Regions from separate parts of the Homo sapiens genome. Here region 1 is reported to be linked to region 2. Evidence: microRNA targets listed by miRTarBase, many of them from high-throughput screens and not tested one by one. Region 2 holds a microRNA gene; the other region holds the end of a gene's coding sequence.

The links. Region 2 holds the annotated microRNA hsa-miR-1247-5p (ACCCGUCCCGUUCGUCCCCGGA, at 2,611-2,632, shown strand). A microRNA usually pairs through its seed, bases 2 to 8, with sites in the 3' UTR of a target mRNA and lowers its output. Matches are read on the target gene's strand: a 7mer-m8 pairs with bases 2 to 8, a 7mer-A1 pairs with bases 2 to 7 and ends in A, and an 8mer does both.
Region 1: miRTarBase lists ALDH16A1 as a target of hsa-miR-1247-5p. The part of its 3' UTR that is shown has no 7-base or 8-base seed match.

What each region holds. Positions count from the first base shown.
Region 1 is chr19:49,469,860-49,473,983 of GRCh38, reverse strand. ALDH16A1 (aldehyde dehydrogenase 16 family member A1) reads right to left here. Exons shown (of 17, transcript NM_153329.4): 17 at 2,934-3,678. The coding sequence ends at 3,517. Among named protein-coding and RNA genes, the nearest start is that of FLT3LG, 2.3 kb to the left of the region's middle.
Region 2 is chr14:101,558,722-101,562,993 of GRCh38, reverse strand. It overlaps MIR1247 (microRNA 1247), which reads left to right and starts at 2,572; the gene lies at 2,572-2,707. DIO3 (iodothyronine deiodinase 3) reads right to left here and starts at 1,499. Exons shown (of 1, transcript NM_001362.4): 1 at 1-1,499. The coding sequence starts at 1,497. The coding sequence ends at 583. DIO3OS (DIO3 opposite strand upstream RNA) reads left to right here and starts at 2,572. Exons shown (of 2, transcript NR_152588.1): 1 at 2,572-2,742.

The DNA.
Region 1 (4,124 bases), not on the chromosome of region 2:
GGGCCCCAACTTTGCCCCGCCAAGGCTTGGCACACAGGACTCAGGATGCATCTTGTCACATTGGGCCTGGCAGGTGTCGCCCTAGCACTAGCTTTATCACTGTGGGAGCTTGGCCAGCCCCTTGACCTCTCTAAGCCTCGGCTTCTCCAACTCCAAACTGAGGGGTGAGGTGGTACATGAGACAAAATAGAAGCTCTCTTCCACATCTGTGGATCTCTGAATCTCTGAAGCATTTTTTTTTTTTAGATGGGGTCTCACTCTGTTGCCCAGGCTGGAGTGCAGTGGCACAGTCTCGGCTCACGGCAACCTCCGCCTCCTGGGCTTAAGCAATTCTTGTGCCTCAGGCTCCCAAGTAGCTGGAATTGCAGGTGCGTGCCACCATGCCCGGCTAATTTTTGTATTTTTAGTAGAGACGAGGTTTCACTATGTTGGCCAGGCTGATCTCGAACTCCTGACCTCAGGTGATCAGCCTGCCTCGGCCTCCCAAAATGCTGGGATTACAGGTGTGACCCATCACGCCCATCCTGAATCTCTTGCTCACCCATCTGATCCGTGGCAGACTGTCCTGAAACATCTGCTGCCCCCACCCCCCCAGCAGGAGGATTCGAGGTCCCATCCTGGGGAACTCGGACATGGCCACACTCACTTTGGCCAGTCACATGAGGGTGGAGGTGACAGGTGTCACTTCTGAATGGAAGTCTAAGGGACCGGGGAGTGGATGGTGGAGGATGCATGGAGAGAGCGCCTCTATCAGCCAAGTTTCCTGTGCCACTCGGAGGAGCACAGGGATCCTGCCAGCCCCGGATGAGCACAGGGAGTGTAAGCAACAAACTAATGTTGTGGTTGTGGCCCACGCAGATTCGGGGGTTATGTGTTACTGCAGCAAAGCCTCGCCCGTCCTGGCCTTCATCATCCATTTCCCTTCCCTGATCCCTCTGCCTGCCTCACTTCCTGTTCAGCCTGGGTTAGCTGCCTTGTCGCACCCAATGGTCAGACCTTCCATCTGGCTAGAAAGATTTAAATGAAGCAGAGAGGCAGAGATACAAGCCCCAATAGCTCATGTGGCCCATGGACAAAGGACCTGCTCTAGCTCCTTCCTGACCAAGTCCTGGGGCCCCTCAATGTGTGTCCTGCCCTATCGCCCTATTGCCTCTAGGGAATCTCTGTAGCCTTCCAGAAGACTCCTCTCTCTCTCTCTTTTTTTTTTGAGACCGAGTCTCGCTGTGTTGCCCAGGCTGGAGTGCAGTGGCACGATCTTGGCTCACTGCAAGCTCCCCCTCTGCCTCCCAGGTTCAAGCAATTCTCCTGCCTCCCAGATAGCTGGGATTTCAGGTGCCGCCACCACGCCTGGCTAATTTTTATAATTTTAGTAGAGACGGGATTTCACCATGGTGCCCAGGCTGGTCTCAAACTTCTGACAAGTGATCCACCCACCTCGGCCTCCCAAAGTGCTGGGATTACAGGTGTGAACTGCCACACCTAGTCCGGAAAACTCTCATTTTTTTTTTCTTTGAGATGGAGCCTTGCTCTGTTGCCCAGACTAGAGTGAAGTGTGTGCTCTCAGCTCACTGCAACCTCTGCCTCCTGGGTTCGAGTGATTCTTCTGCCTCAGCCTCCTGAGTAATTGGGATTACAGGTGCCCGCCACCACACCCAGCTAATTTTTGTATTTTTAGTACAGACAGGGTTTCACTGTGTTGGCCAGGCTGCTCTCAAACTCCTGACCTCAGGTGATCCGCCTACTTCGGCCTCCCAAAGTGTTGGGATTACAGGCCTGAGTCACCGAGCCTGGCCTCTGAAAACTCCCTTTTATCCTAAACTAGTAAGAGTGGGTTTCTTACATCAAAAAGAATTCTACTTCAGGTGTGGTGGCTGATGCCTGCAGTCCCACACTTTGAAAGGCTGAGGCGAGAGGATCGCTTGAGGCCAGGAGTTCAAGACCAGCCTGAGCAACGTAGGTAGACTCTGCCTATTAAAAAAAAAAAAATTAGCCAGGCATGGTGGTGCGTGCCTGTGGTCCCAGCTGCTCAGGAGGCTGAGGTGGGAGGATTTTTTTTTTTTTTTTTTGAGACGGAGTCTCACTCTTTCGCCCAGGCTGGAGTGCAGTGGCTCGATCTCGGCTCACTGCAAGCTCCACCTCCCGGGTTCACGCCATTCTTCTGCCTCAGCCTCCCAAGTAGCTGGGACTACAGGCGCCCGCCACCATGCCCAGCTAATTTTTTTGTATTTTTAGTAGAGACGGGGTTTCACCGTGTTAGCCAGGATGGTCTTGATCTCCTGACCTCATGATCCACCTGCCTCGGCCTCCCAAAGTGCTGGGATTATAGGCGTGAGCCACCACGCCCGGCCGAGGTGGGAGGATTGAGCCCAGGTCGAGGGTGGGTTCAGTAAGCTGTGACTGCGCCACTGTATTACAGCCTAAAAAACAGAGCAAGATCCTTTATTTAAAAATCAACAGTCGTGCGCAGTGGCTTAAGTCTGTAATCTTAGCACTTTGGGGAGACCAAGACAGGCGGACCGCTTGAGGTCAGGAGTTTGAAACCAGCCAGGCCAAGATGGTGAAACCCCGTCTGTACTAAAAATACAAAAAATTATCTGGGTGTGGTGGCGCGAGCCTGTAATTCTAGCTACTCTGGAGGCCGAGGCAGGAGAATCGCTCGAACCTGGGAGGCGGAGGTTGCAGTGAGCCGAGATCACCCCGCTGCACTCCAGCCTGGCCGACAGAGAGACTCTGTCTCGAAAAAACAAAAAACAAACCAAAAAAACCCACCCACAACCAGAATCCTAAGGCAGTGGTGTGCTGAAGCGGCTCGTATTGGCTCATGGGAGCTGACCTGTTAACAATTCAGGATCTCGCAGGCAGTTGTTTAATCACCTGTACCTTGAAATCCGGCACGGTGGGAGCATTTACATCATGGAAATTGACAAAAGTCATATAGGAGGACTTTAATTTTATTCCAGAGAGTTCCTTTACTGCATATGGATTCTGGGGCCATGAAAAGGTAGAGAAAACCAGAGAGCAAGAGCCACCAGATGGAGAAGACAAGAAGATATGAGAGTCCTAAGGCCCTGTCTGGGGTCCTCGGGGGTCCCCTTTCTCTGTTTCACAAACACAGCACCGTGCTGGAGCCGGCTCCTGAGCTGCTCAACCTCAGAACTAAAATGGCCTCGAGCCAGGTGTGGTGGTGCATGTCTGTGGCCCCAGCTACATATGAGGCTGAGGCATGAGGATCCCTTGAGCCCCAGAGGTCGAGGCTGCAGTGGGCCGAGATTGTGCCACTGCGCTCCAGCCTGGGTGACAGAGCCAGACGTTGTCTCAAAAAAAAAAAAAAAAAAGAAAAAAGCCTCATATCTGCCAGAAGTTGCTACACCCTTTCTTCTCGCAGAAGCACAGCTAGGGTTGGTCAGAGAGTTTATTGGGAGACACAGGAACCAGAAGGGGAAAGTCCCAGGTGTCTGTGGGGTGCATCTCCCCTTGGTGTGAGGTGTCCAAAATGCAGTAGGTGGCGCTCAGGCATCAGTCCCCCATAGGCAGCCACAGGGCCTTGGTCCGCGCCACTCGCAGCCCCAGCTCTGGGCCTGCCCCCTCGGCCTCCTGGTCCCAGGCCCGCGGGCAGCCCCTGCTCGCCCACACCGGTTTGAGGTTTCCTGCCGAGGCCCACTCGACAAACTGGGAACCCTGAGGGGAGGAAGAGACGGGGGTAAGCACTTCTGCAGGCTTGTTGCTGAGCACCTGCTTCCTCCGCGATGAAGACTGTTACTGACGAGGGGCTTCAGGCTGGACCCAGGCTCTGCAGCTACAATGCCCAGCTCCTCCCAAGCAGAACTTCCAGATGGTAGGGAAAAGCACTGGACCCAGTGGTTAGGGAATTTCCTCTCCCTTAACAGCCCATGTTGAAAGGAATGGGCCCCAAGGCTCTTGTCAACAAGTTCACATCTGTTACCAACAGGAGGTTTAAGAGAGTGGACGGTGGGGCGCGGTGACTCGCTCCTGTAATCCCAGCACTTGGGGTGGCTGAGGCGGGAGGATCGCTTGAGTTCAGGAGTTTGAGACCAGCCTGGACAATATGGCGAGACCCCGTCTCCATTTAAAAAGTAAAAATTGGTTGGGCACAGTGGCTCACG
Region 2 (4,272 bases):
CCTGTGCACCCAAAACAAGCGGGGGAAACTACCCTGCCCACCCCTCCCCATCCACGACATCACTTCCCCTACCAGGGACAGGAAACAGACACAAAAGCAACAGGGAACCCCCTCTCCGCGCGCGACAGGTGGGTGCCAGGCAACTAGCTCAGCTGAGCTGAGAGTCTCCTGGAACCCAGCTGCGCTCAGGGCGCGCGGGCGTGGCCAAGGTCTCTGTGCAGCTGCGGGAAGCACCGGGCCAAAGCACTTGGCTGAGGGCACGCTGGGGAGGGGGTGTAAGAAAATGCTGTAGAGGCAAAGTCCTGGGGGCACACGGACAAGGGCAAGCCATATCCCGCGCTCAAAAGAGGATTTCCAGTGAGCCAGGCAGGTGTGAATGAGACAGTTACAGAAGCAGAGTCCCAGGGAGGTAGGGGAGATTGTTCATGTGGCTGAGGGTGCAGACTCAGTCTGAAATGGTGGCTCAGCACATCAGTGTCACTGGGGCCTCGCCAAGCGTGACTTGGTTTGAGGCGCTTGCACGTGGGCTTCGAAGGCTCGAAGGCCCAGCCCACCAAGTTCAGTCAATTGTCCGTTGGATGTTTACACCCTCCGGGGCCGAGCGCCGTGCAGTTGCTCATCATAGCGTTCCAACCAAGTGCGCAGCTCAGAGACCTGGTAGCCGTCGGGGCCACGGCCGCCCTGGTACATAATAGTGCCACTCTGGATGACATAGAGACGCTCGAAGTAGGCGCCATAGGCCGAGCTGCTGGAGTTGGCCATGGTGTCGAGGACCAGAGCGCAGCCGGGTGCACCTTGCTGCAGTACCCTCGCTGCGCTGACCCGGTCCTCCAGGCTCCGGTGCTGTGGGATGATGTAGGGAGAGTCCGTGGTGACCCAGCCGTCGGAGGGGTGCGCTTCCTCGATGTAGATGATGAGGAAGTCGACGTCGCGCTGGTACTTAGTGACCAGGCGCTGGAAGGCGCTCATGCGCGCCATGAACGGTGGTCAGGTGCAGCTGCCGAAATTGAGAACCAGCGGGCGGTTCCCTTGCGCGTAGTCGAGGATGTGCTGGCTCTGGAAGCCGTCGGGCAGAACCACCTCGGAGTTGGGCGCCGGACCGCCCTCGTGCGCCTGCTTGAAGAAATCCAACTTCTGGCCATGCCACACCGCCTTGAGCGACGCCAGGGTGCACAGGCGGTTGTCGTCGGACACGCAGATGGGCGGGTCATCGGGAGGCACCTCCTCGCCTTCACTGTTGAGCTCCACTTCGGGCTCGGGCTGCCCCCGGCGGCGGCGGCCCAGGAAATGCTTGCGGATACACAAGAAATCGAGAAGCCAGAGCATGAAGGCCGTGCCGAGGAAGCGCGGGAAGAGCACGAGGCACGAGGCGGTCTGGGCGCAGAGCCTCAAGGAGTGAAGCAGCAGGGAGCGGAGCATGGTGGCTGCAGGCCCCGAAGCCCCCTGGGACCCCTCGCCCTCTCCGACCACCAACCGCGACGTGGCCTGGCGAGGCATCTGGGCTTCAGCAGTGCAGGGAGTTCAATTTATAGCGGAGGCTTCAATTGGCGGGAGACTCCACCTCCGGCCCGGCCCGCCCCCTTGCAACTTGAGCCCGGAGGGATCACCCAGCAGCGCGGCCAATGCCCTAGAAATCTTGGGCTGAGGGCGGGCGCAGGCGGGCGGAGGGCGGAGCGGCCGGGCCTGGGGCCGGTGGGGGCGGGCCCGGGCCCCGCAGCCAGCTCTCGGGGGCGGGGGACTCCGGCAGCCGCTGCCGCTGGGGACCGGGAGCCCGACCAGGGACCTGGGCGTCCGCTGGGGAGGTCCTCCAGCTGGCGCGAGCGCTGCGCGCCGCCCTGGTCCCCGCCGCCTGGCTCCGGCCCGCGCCCCCCTCGCCGCGCACCTGAGCCGAGCTCCCCGGCGGCCGCCGAGCCGCGCCGGAGCTCCGGTTCGCTTCCCGCGCGCCGCCGCCAACGCCGCCCACGCCGCTGCCGCTCGTGCGGGGCCGCTGCCCAGGTGCCGCGGGAGGCCGGGTCCGCGGCCGCCGCTTCGGTGGCCCCGGCTCCCGCCCCACCGAGGACGCGGGCCAGCGAGGAGGCAACTTTGCGTTCCCGCCGCCTTCCTGGCTCGCCCGCGGGCGCCGCTCGCCTGCCGGAGCCCGCCCGCCCGCCTCCCGCGCGCGCTCACACTCGCGCCTCGCACACGGCCGCCCCCCGCACCGCCCCGCCACGCACACCGCGCTCCGCGCCCCCCGCCGCTGCCCGAGGCTGCCGCGCGCCGCCCCAGCCCGCGCCGCCCTGGCCGCGCCCGCCCCGTCCCATCTCGTTCCAGCGGGGCGCCGCGGTTCCTGGGTCAGCGGCCGCCGGGGCCGGGCTGAGAGGTGCGGAGGGCAGAGCCCGCGGGCGGGTTACCGCCGGGCGCCGGAGACCGGAGAGCTGGGGAAAGCGGCGCCGGCCCTGCGCCCCCAGCCGACCCGGGCGCGGGGCGCCACGGGCGTGGGGCGCGGGGCAGCGGGCGCGGGGCGGCGCCGGCCCCGGGCGGCTCTCCCACTAGGGGTAGCTGTTGCCTGAACGCCGGAGCGCTCCCCTCTCGCCGCTTGCCTCGCCCAGCGCAGCCCCGGCCGCTGGGCGCACCCGTCCCGTTCGTCCCCGGACGTTGCTCTCTACCCCGGGAACGTCGAGACTGGAGCGCCCGAACTGAGCCACCTTCGCGGACCCCGAGAGCGGCGGCGCGACTCACCGCGGAGGCGCCCGGACGCGTCAAGTGCGTACTTTCAACCGTAAATGGGTGCTGAGCGTTTAGGGGTGCGGGGCAACTCCCTAACTCGTGGGGCCCTGGCCGGCCCTGCCGCGGCGTCCGAGACCTTCTGATCCCTCGCTGCGCGCGGCGCGGGGTTGGCGACTTGGGCTCAGGGGCGGCGGGGCGGGGAGGTGCCTTGACCTAGGGACCCAGAGGCCGGGAGCAAGTCTCCTTTCGCCTTGGACTGCAGTGTCCCCCAGGGCAAGGCCTGAACCAGGTCGCGAGGGTCTGTCTCCCGTCTGGGGAGCTGAACTGCCCGAGACACTGTCGCAGTCGCGGGGACTTGTCTGGAGCGGCGGGGTCTGAGCCCAAGTCGGAAGCCGCCGCCGCCGCCAGCGTCCCGTGCGCCTGCCGCCCCGGGACCAGCCGCGAAACTTCTTCTCGGGACGGAGACAGCGCTCGCCGCCCGGGCCGAGGTAGGAGCTGGCTGGGCTCGGTAGAGCGCGGGCGAATCGCTTTCGGCAGCGAAGGAACGTGTCGGGAGAAGCCAACTGCAGGACCAGGGCCCCAGCGGGCGCGCAGAGACGCCTGCCTTGGGCGGAGGTCCCCCCCTCCGGTTTTCGTGGCTCTGGTAGGGCCCTCTGTCCCGTGAGCTCCTCACTGGACCTGAGGCTACAGGCTTCAGCAGGTCAAGCGCCCGAGTGTGCCTGGAGGATTGGCGGCGGGGTGGCATGAGAAGGTGGCCCCTCTTCTCCATCTCCCAGTCAGGCGATTTCTCTGCTGTCTGGGGCAGGGGCGCACACCCCAGGAACTTACTACGTAGAGGGAAGCCAGCCTGGTCTCTCCCCCTTGCGTCAGTGCTCCTAAGCTGCCCCTCACCACTCTGGGTAGGGGTCTTTCAGGTGGGCTAGGGAATTCTCCTTGGAAGTCCCCTTGTTTGCTCCCCTCCATCAGGGCACCTCTGAGTTAGCCAATCATCCTCTTTTCTGGCCTCTTTTTTGCGGGGAGGAGAGTAGAGAGAGAAGCCTCCTACTCGGCAGGTCTCTGAGAGGAGGTTTGGGGGGGCTTCTGAGGTTGCTCCTCCTGGGCAGAGTCAAGGGGTGTTGAGGGTTCCAACTTTTACTGGACAATCTCTCAAGCTCTGATTCCCTGATTTCTGGGAGGTGTCAGTGTAGGGCTTGTGTCCTGCCCCACCCACACAGCATTTGGTGCAGGCACATGGGATGGTTCCCCAAGCCCTTTTCCCACAGTTAGTTTCAGAAAATGCATAAGCCACCTAAGGCTGGGAGAGCCTTTCTGTGCTGGCTGAGATCTGGTGGCATGTGCATGCATATGTGTGCAAGTGTGTGTGTGTGTGTGCAAGTGTGTGTGCGCATGTGCATGTGTGTGGAAAGTATGGTCTGGGTGGCTGTAAGACTGGCCCCTCTTGTCCCCTCTGCAGGCCCAGCCCAATAGGAAGCACCTGATCCACACTCTTTCTAGCCCCAGGGATGCTCAGGAAAGCAGCCTTTCTTTAGGGCTGTCATCTGTTCTGGGGATCTGTTGCTGTTTCTT